3 separate regions of the Homo sapiens genome follow, and regions 1 and 3 are each reported to be linked to region 2. The links are microRNA targets in miRTarBase. Many come from high-throughput screens and were not tested one by one. Region 2 holds a microRNA gene; each other region holds the end of a gene's coding sequence.
Evidence for each region. The annotated mature microRNA hsa-miR-4324 reads CCCUGAGACCCUAACCUUAA and lies in region 2 at 2,461-2,480, opposite strand. An mRNA with a match to its seed (bases 2 to 7 or 8) in the 3' UTR can be bound and repressed. Matches are read on the target gene's strand: a 7mer-m8 pairs with bases 2 to 8, a 7mer-A1 pairs with bases 2 to 7 and ends in A, and an 8mer does both.

Region 1: miRTarBase lists CEP76 as a target of hsa-miR-4324. The part of its 3' UTR that is shown has no 7-base or 8-base seed match.
Region 3: the mRNA of ANKRD33B is a reported target of hsa-miR-4324. Seed matches in the 3' UTR shown: 8mer at 1,119-1,126.

What each region holds. Positions count from the first base shown.
Region 1 is chr18:12,670,524-12,673,523 of GRCh38, forward strand. It overlaps CEP76 (centrosomal protein 76), which reads right to left. Exons shown (of 12, transcript NM_024899.4): 12 at 2,102-2,980. The coding sequence ends at 2,842. It also overlaps a transcript of PSMG2 not described here. Among named protein-coding and RNA genes, the nearest start is that of SPIRE1, 14 kb to the left of the region's middle.
Region 2 is chr19:49,306,347-49,309,561 of GRCh38, forward strand. It overlaps MIR4324 (microRNA 4324), which reads right to left and starts at 2,522; the gene lies at 2,451-2,522. It overlaps SLC6A16 (solute carrier family 6 member 16), which reads right to left. Exons shown (of 12, transcript NM_014037.3): 6 at 2,955-3,065; 7 at 2,530-2,771.
Region 3 is chr5:10,649,844-10,652,843 of GRCh38, reverse strand. It overlaps ANKRD33B (ankyrin repeat domain 33B), which reads right to left. Exons shown (of 4, transcript NM_001164440.2): 4 at 1-3,000. The coding sequence ends at 2,731. Among named protein-coding and RNA genes, the nearest start is that of ANKRD33B, 87 kb to the right of the region's middle.

The DNA.
Region 1 (3,000 bases), not on the chromosome of region 2:
TGTTAATACAGCCTTGATCTTAATATAGTCTGTCTCTTAGTACATACCTCATAGTTTGTCTCAAAAGTTGAAAATTACAAGCAATTTTCTGTTGATAGCTTTTTTTGTAATTTTGGCAAAAGAGTGGTTTTTTTTAACTTTTTTAAAAAGTTTTTTTTTTCTTTGAGATAGGGTCTTGCTCTGTCACCCAGGCTGGAGTGCAGTGGCACAATCTTTTGGGCTCAAGTGATTCACCCACCTCAGCCTCCCAAGCAGCTGGGACCACAGGTGTGCACGATCACGCCCTGCTAATTTTTTACATTTTTTGTAGAGAGGGGTTCTTGCTATGTTGCCCAGGCTGGTCTTAAACTCCTGAACCCAAGAGATTCTCCTGCCTCAGCCTCCCAGAGTACTGGAATTATAGGTGTGAACCACTATGCTTTAAAAAAAGCTTCAATTATTATTTTGCTAATTTTCTACAGTCATGTCAGTCTCACAAGAAACATCTGATTACCATTTTTGATGAAAATTGTAGAAGAGGGATCATAATATTTCAGACTTTTTAAACAAATTGAATATTTATTATACATAAAAATAAAACAAAGTAGATTTATTCTTTTAGAGAAATAGGGGGGGGTCTCTCTATGCTCCCAGGCTGGTCTTGAGCTACTTCTTGGGCCATCCTCTGGCCGCAGCCTCCAAAAGTGCTGGGATTATAGGTGTGAGCCATCACACCTGGCCCAAAAAGTAAATTTTAAGACACTTTTAGATTTTAATTTTCGAAAAACGAAATCATTTTATTTGTAGGGGTGAATTAAAGTGATTAAAAGAATTAATAACTTGGATAGCCAACTGGTATAGAGTTACTTTCTTAAGACCAATGGATAAAGCAACTAAATTAAGAACTACACATATCAGAGTGAACAAAGATTCTTTGAAAAAATAAAAAACTTAAAAAAAATGAAAAGAACTATGCACAGAAGTGCTAAATGGGCAATCAAACCCCTCATATCATGTATTATGCAGCTTCTTGCAAAAAGTTGAATTGCTACTCTTTTTAAAGTTTACTTTTGTTCACTTAACACTTTTTTTAATATATAAAATTTTAAAATAAGTTGAGGAATCAGGTTTCACACTTTCTTTTTTTTTTTTTTTTTTTTTTTTGAGACAGAGTCTTGCTCTGTCACCCAGGCTGGAATGCAGTGACGCGATCTTAGCTCACCACCTCTGTGGACTCAAGCGATCCTTCCGCCTCAGACTCCCGAGTAGCTTGGATTATGGGTGTGTGACACCATGCCTAGCTACTTAAAATTAACTTATAAAAAACATTTTTTTTGAGATGGAGTATTGCTCTGTTGCCCACGCTGGAGTACAGTGGCATGATCTTGGCTCATCACAACCTCCGCCTCCCAGGTTCAAGCGATTCTCCTGCCTCAGTCTCCTGAGTAGCTAGACTACAGGCACATGCCACCATGCCCAGCTAATTTTTGTATCTTTAGTAGAGACAGGGTTTCACTGTGTTGGCCAGGCTGGTCTTGAACCCCTGACCTCGTGATCCACCCACATCAGCCTCCCAAAGTGCTGGCATTACAGGTGTGAGCCACCATGCCTGGCCCTTTTTTTTTTTTCTGAGATGCAGTCTCGCTCTGCCTCCCATGCTGGAGTGCAGTGGCGCGATCTCACCTCACTGCAACCTCTGCCTCCCAGGTTCAAGCGATTCTCCTGCCTCAGCCTCCTGAGTAGCTGGGATTACAGGTGTGAGCCACCGCACCCGGCCTAATTTTCGTATTTTTAGTAGAGACAGGGTTTCACCATGTTGCCCAGGCTGGTCACGAACTCCTGACCTCAAGTGATCCACCCACCTCGGCCTCCCAAAGTGCTGGGATTACAGGCATAAACCACTACGCCGAGCCTTACAAAATTTTTAAAACGTGCTCAATTTTAAAACAAAAATCAGTATGGAATCACTCACATATGCTTGTTTTCAGTGGTCTCACACAATCAATCTCTTATTTAGATTAGTCACATATATGCTGATTTTTTTATCACAATGAAAGAAAAAAGGGTTTCAGAAGATAGAATCCATGAAGAGGCTAATAATGAATCCTCTGACCACAGAAAATCAGTGATCGACTGCAAGATCACAATTTATCAGTATCATAACAAAGAGGTATAATAAAGTTTTTCTAAAATACCCAATTCATTTTTACAACAAATCACAGTGATAAATATTTCTAAATGATTCATGTACTTTCATATGAGGTTATTAATATTTATGCTTTTCTGGTATTAGTTTTTTCCTACTCTTGCTTCAAGGTCCAACCATAAATTTCTGGACAGTCTCAAATATCCCAAGGACCACGAATAAACCACAAAAGTGGTAATTCATTAACATTTATTTTCACCAATGCAATAAATAAATCTGTCATGAGGTTAATTTCTCCTAATCTGTATAAAATAATTCCATTAACCTGTGAAAAGTAATGATCATACTGATTTGTCTAGGGCTCAAACCCTTAGACAAACATCTCTTTGATTACCTGTTTGTGTAAAGAAAACTGAATGCATTTTATATTAATATTTAAACTACTGATAACTGTAAACAAAGTAGCATTTATTAAAATAGAATATACACTTAATTTATACTAAATTCCAGGGAGATTTATACAAGTTTTTCAGCCTTAATTTTTAAAGGAATGCATGATTTTTTTTAAACATTACCAGTCAAGTATATACAAAATTGAAGTATGCCATTCAAGCCAGATTGTGATTTTAAAATAACAAACCTCTAAATAGCTAAGTAATGTACAATGTGTAAAATTCCAATTAAACACAGGTATAAATCTTATATAAATATTGGCCCTATAATACCGAGCGATATTTACAAGCAAACATGATCCAAACAGCACATGCAGATTCAGGGTAAGTAAATACTCGGACACGAACTGCCAGTCGCACTTGGTCTCCACGGCAACAGATTATTTCTTCACAGAAAGGAGATCTATTTAAGAAAAAAAAAAT
Region 2 (3,215 bases):
GGATAAATATTGCAAACATGTTGGATGAGAAAAAGAAAGCACAAAAGTAAGCAAAGAGAATGTATATATGAGGGAACAAATAACTAAACATATTGCTTTATATAAGTGGACAAATTATATTGCTTAGCTATGCATACATAGATGATAGAATATAAAGAAAAACATTAATCACTATCCTTAGTTCTTTGTTTTTTTTTTTTCTTTTTTTTTTTTTTGAGAGAGAGTCTCACTCTGTTGCCCAGGTGGAATGCAGTGGCACAATCTCAGCTCACTGCAGCCTCCACCTCCCAGGTTCAAGCAATTCTCCTGCTTTGGCCTCCTGAGTAGCTGGGACTACAGGTGTGTGCCACCACGCCCGGCTAATTTTTGTATTTGTTAGTAGAGATGGGGTTTCACCATATTGGCCAGGCTGGTCTCAAACTCCTGACCTCGTGATCCATCTGCCTCAGCCTCCCAAAGTGCTGGGATTATAGGCATGAGCCACCGCACCCGGCTTGTTTTTCTTTACATTTGATCATCTATGTATGCGTATCTACTAAGCAATATAGTAACCACTATCCTGACTTTTATGATGGTTACCTCTGGGAGGCAGTAAAGAGATTATGATTAGAAAAAGATACACAGAGAGCATCTAGGGTTATTCTAGTTCTTAATACAGGTGATGTTTACTTCACGGTTCGTTACACAGTGCATTGTTTTATACACTTTTTTTTTTTTTTTGTTAGAGGAAGGGTCTCGCCCAGCTGATTTCAAACTCCTGGGTTCAAGCAATCCTCCCACCTCAGCCTCCCTAAGAGCTGGCATTACAGGCGTGAGCCACTGCTCCCGGCCTTGTTTTATGCATTTTTCCATATGTAGGTAATAGCTCATAATAAAAGGTTTTTTTGAAAATACACAAAAAAACTACCATTACACTCCCACCAGACTGGAAACAATTTAAAAGTCCAACCAAGTTTAATCAAGTGTTGTGCAAAAAGTAGAACAAATGGAAGTCTCACACATCCCTGATGGGAGGGCAATGCATTACGCCACTTTGAAAACCAGACAATATATGATAAAATTGAAGGGGAGCACACCCTACTCAGCAATTCCTTTCCTAACTATATGCTGTCAAGAACTCTTGCACACGCACACATGTATATTCCCAGGCATCTTCTAGAAGAAAATGGTGGTTATTTGTGAGGGTTAGGGTTACTAGGAGAGGTCGGGCGCGGTGGCTCACGCCTGTAATCCCAGCTCTTTGGGAGGCAGAGGCAGGAGGATGGCTTGAGCCCAGGAGTTCAAGACCTGCCTGAGCAATATAGTGGGACCCTGTTCTCAAAAATTTAAATTAAAAAAAAAAAATCTGCTGGGAGAGAGAGGAAGAGGAGGAGGAAGCAAAAAAAAAGAAAAAGAAAAAAAAGAAAAAGAAAAAAAAAAGATTACTGGGAGAAATTCAACTCAGGGTTGCCTCCTCTGGAAGGCCCCATCTGACTAGTCCAGACAGAATTAATGGCTCTGTCTCCTGTCCTCACCCATCACTTCAGTTACCAGTTAGCACAAGTTTTTGGCTGTCTCATTCTCCTTTCCTTCCCCCTCCAAAATTGAAAACTTAATGAAACAAGGACTGTGGTCTGATTCACCTGTCCAAGTCTCTGTTGTATAGAAAGAACACTTCCTAAATGTCTGTCTGATGGATGTTTTTGGAATTAATGCCTAAAAATAAGAAAAATAAGAAACAGGGGTGATCAGACAATCAAGGTTCTAGTACAGAGAATCCTTTTGGAGTTTCTGCTAGATTGACAGAAATCCCCAATTCAGGAGTTAACAGTTAAGAATGGGGGCCTTAGGGCGCGGTGGCTCACGCCTGTAATCGCAGCACTTTGGGAGGCTGAGGCGGGCGGATTATGAGGTCGGGAGATCGAGACCATCCTGGCTAACATGGTGAAACCCTGTCTTTACTAAAAATACAAAAAAATTAGCCGGGCCTGGTGATGGGCACCTGTAGTCCCAGCTACTCAGGAGGCTGAGGCAGGAGAATGGCTTGAACCCAGGAGGCAGAGCTTGCAGTGAGCCAAGTTCGCGCCACTGCACTCCAGCCTGGGTGAAAGAGCGAGACTCCATCTCAAAAAATAAAAATAAAATAAAATAATGGGGGCCTTCTACTTCTCCATTTTTCCAAGGATGGCCTTGGAAGTCTCTGTGTGGTATGGTCTTGGATGGTATTTTGTTGTGTATCTGGGATTAGAGAAGCCTTCAATGTTTGCAATTTTTAGTACATCCCTGTTAGCATATCCACTCTGAGGTGGATAGCTGGCAATCTCTGAGTTTGAAGATTTATTTCTAGGGTGACAAAAGGCTCTGAGAAGGATAATATATGATAGGAGATTCTATTGTCTCCATTTTTAGCTATGGGGAAGGTAGAGGGCTTGCAAGTGCACCCAAGGTTGAAATGTGTGAACATGGGTCTTTGCAGCACCTTTAAGGTTAGGGTCTCAGGGTTTTAAAGTTCCCTGGAGCTGAGACCCTTAACAAAGGGGCCGGCCTTACCTCTCACAGCAGCGATGTGTGATGACTGTCGCCCAGAAGCCCAGGACACAGAAGTTGAAAGATGTGAAAACCAACAAAGTGAGCAGGTTTATCACAGACACGAGAAAGGCATCACTGAGACAGTTGTTGGACTGGGGCATGTAGGAGGCTAAGGAGGCAACGGAGCCAAGGCCTATGCCTGTGTTAGACAAAACTTGACCCCCTGCTAGAGACCACACACTCATATTGTACACATCCGATATCTAAAAGAGAGAAGACAAGCATAAGGGGGTTGTAAAAGAAGAAGCAGAGGACAACTATAATAGAAATGTTGCAGGGAGGAGAGAGGGAGATACAAAAGTAAAGAATGGGGAAAGGAAGCTCTAAGAATAGGCAGCTGTGGTGCCCTACAAGGCCTGACGGGGGAGTGAGGAGATAGATTTCACCTTGGCAACCACCAACTGTTGAAGGCCAAATTTTGCCCCTTCCAGGAGTAGAGTCCGGATGAAGAAACCGACAATGATGAAACAGGGGAGCAGTACCAAGACATAGATTACCTGAATCGAGAGTGGGACATATCAGCAACCGTGTACCAGTAGGGGTCAACCAACAGTTAGGAGGGATCAAAAGTTCTGAGTCAGAAATGAGTAGGAGTTAGAAGAAAGCCTTCAGCAAGAGTCAGGGGCTAGGGGAGTAAAAGCCAAAGG
Region 3 (3,000 bases), not on the chromosome of region 2:
AGCTGTTTTGTGGACACCAGGAGCATCACTGGACAATCCCTGTGCTGGCCCCAGAGTATCCTGTGCACCTGGATGAGGCTGGAACACATCGGGGGCAGGGCCGCAACACGTCCACTCCAGAACAGCGTGGGACCTGGGGAAATTGCCAGTCATTTGCTGTCCCATCATTGCTGTTCCACGCATCCCTGACAACTCTGAGCATGGGTTGTGGTGAGGTAGCAGCTGGGCAGGACCAGAAATGTCCATTTTTGACATGGAGGCAGCAGACACCCAGGCTTGGGGTAGAAGTGAGGGCTCCATACCATTCCCAGTGACAGCTTCCCATGGTGGAAACAGGCAGGAATGTCTGGCAACCCACCAAGGGTCAGACGCCACGTCAGTCCGAGCAGAAGCTGCCTGACCCTGGCTGTTCCAATGACAATGAGACATTCTTGGGGAGGTGGAGCCCTCTGTGGGAGCTCAGAATGGGTGTCCTCTCGCAATCACTGTGTTAGAGCTGCGGTTCTCAATGCGGGCTGCAGTGCAGTTACCTGCGGAGCTTTAGGGCGCTCCCAGGGCTTGGCTCCCCGGACCAGGGCCTTGAGAACCTTCACAGCAGGGGTAGCCGGTGTTGAGAAGCGTGCCTGGGAGACCACATGGCACTGCCTGGCTGGGTCCTCGGTTGACAGAGGTGAGGGTGGGGCTCGTGGTGACTTGGTAATGCCGTGAATTATCTACATGTGGCAGGAAGGTGCCACATGCCAAAGGATTCAGGAAAGACAACCCCAAAGATAACCAGTGTCAGTTACAGTCTCCACCTCCTCGAAGAAGACATGGCCAATCCCAACTCCTTGGCCACGAGGGTGACCCACAGTCAACTAATATCTGCAGTTCTCAAAGAGGGTCCAGTCTCCTGTGGCATTCATCATGGTGCCCTTCTGGGATTAAGGAGGAACTCACTGCAATCTCATCTTAAACACTGTATCATCAACACACCAATCTCCCATTAGCCTGGGTGCAGCCTGCAGTCCTGTTCAATGGAGTATTTGGAGAGGCCAGTTTAAGATCCCTGGTTGCTCGATGCCTGCTGGTGCCAAGTGGAAGGGAGTATGGAGAAGCCTGCACCAGCCCTGCCTGCATCCTGAGACAGACACCATGTATCATGATGTATCTAGGGTTATTAGGGTCATAGTACAGAGCCTCCAAATAGGCCTGTGATCGTGCGTGTCCAAGTATTTCAATTAATACTGAAATAAAGTGCATATGTGACAGACACTCTACAACCCACATGGCCAGAGAGCCATTAGAACTAGAAACTCCAGCCTGAGTTTCCAGCTTTCATACCCTGCCCTGCCGAATTAGAATGCTGCAAATCTGATAATGATTACAAATACAAAATTATGCAGAAAACCCCCTTTGATAAATTCAAATTTGATCACTGAGAAAAGTGATCTCCATGTCACTTTGGAGATAAAAGTGTGGACATAAGACTCTCACCAAGAGCTTGTGGCCCAAGGCAAATCACACCCATGCCCTGCCCTGCCCAAGGCCCTGCATCTTGGAAATTCTAAGAGGTCGGCATAAGGATGAACTAAACACCAAGCGCAGTCCTCAAAGGAAAAATAAAAGAAATATCCACACAACGGACTCTTTGGAACTGAGCCTGGAGGAGGGGGCTGCCCAGTCTACTCCAGGAGAATTTGCCGAAAACAAGTCTGTTCCCCATTCCATTCTCTCACCTCTTCTAAAAATCACCTCCTCCCCATTCCTGTAATTTGCGTCATTCTGGGCTCCTGACTCTTGTTGCATCTTTTTGACATTTTAAGGATATCTGGATTCGAATTACTTAAGAGCACATATGGCTTAATTTTGTATTTCTGGTAATCATTTATTATTAAATTTGCCTCATTTTATCGAATGACAGTTTTTTTCTCATATCTATTTTTAATGTTAAAGATTTCGTATCCAGTTTACCTAAAACCCCTTGCTTAAAATGAGTTTAATTCTAGCAATAAATACATGTTTATCGCTCCATTGTTTTATAATTTGACAATATGTTTTTCCTCAATATATTACTATATGGATAAGAGTTTTAAAAAGATACAGTAACATCTGATCCTCTGTCTCACTTGATCATGTGGCTCAACGAGCCAATGCCTCCGTCAAATAGAAATATCCGGCAACACTTAATCTAATGACTAAGAACATCCAGTGTGCACCTACACCCACGATGAGGAGAAAAGACCAAACAGCCAAAAAGGGGAGAATCCCATGATGTCTGTGTGAACTCATACAGGTATCATGGATACTTATTGCTAGAAACAGTATCTTAAACAAAAGGTCTTCAGGCAAGTGTATTAAAACTGCCTTGGATATAAGGGGCCCTATCACTTGTAAAACGTTGCAAATTTGATAAATAATGATTAAAAATACAAAATTACGGAGAAAACGCCCTTTGATAAATTGATCTTTAAAAAAAATCTTAATTGAGGTTCTCTAAAGGGAGCCTTTTAGGCAACGTGCCCGCTAGGTGTACTGATTGCTAGGAGGGCTGGCGACAAGCGAATCCATGTGGCTCCCTCAGCCCTCTCTTGGAAGCAGCCTGGACAAACAGCCTGGAAATGCGCGCAGCCCCGTGGTCCATGGAGCGGAAGTGGTGCGATGCGCAACGGGGCCGCCTCCTTCTCCGCGCCCAGCCCTGCGGCCCCGCCCCGGCCCCAGCCCCGGCCCCAGCGCCAGGCACACGGGCCCTCACGTCCTCTTCTTCCAGGGCGCAGTGCGCCTCTCCTTCTGCGCCTCGGCCTGGCGCTTCTTTTCGGCCTCCTCTGCCTTCCTCTTCTCCTCCTTGGCCTCCTTGTACCGCCACTTGGGGATCTGCAGGTGGCCGCTGTCCTTGGTGCTGCCCTTCCGCGCCGGCCGCTCGGGCTGGAAGGTGGGCGCGGGCGCCTTGCTGACTCGGACCCGGGGCACCACCACACCGGGCCGCACGCTTCTCCGCCGCAGGCGCTGCAGGGGCAGGAG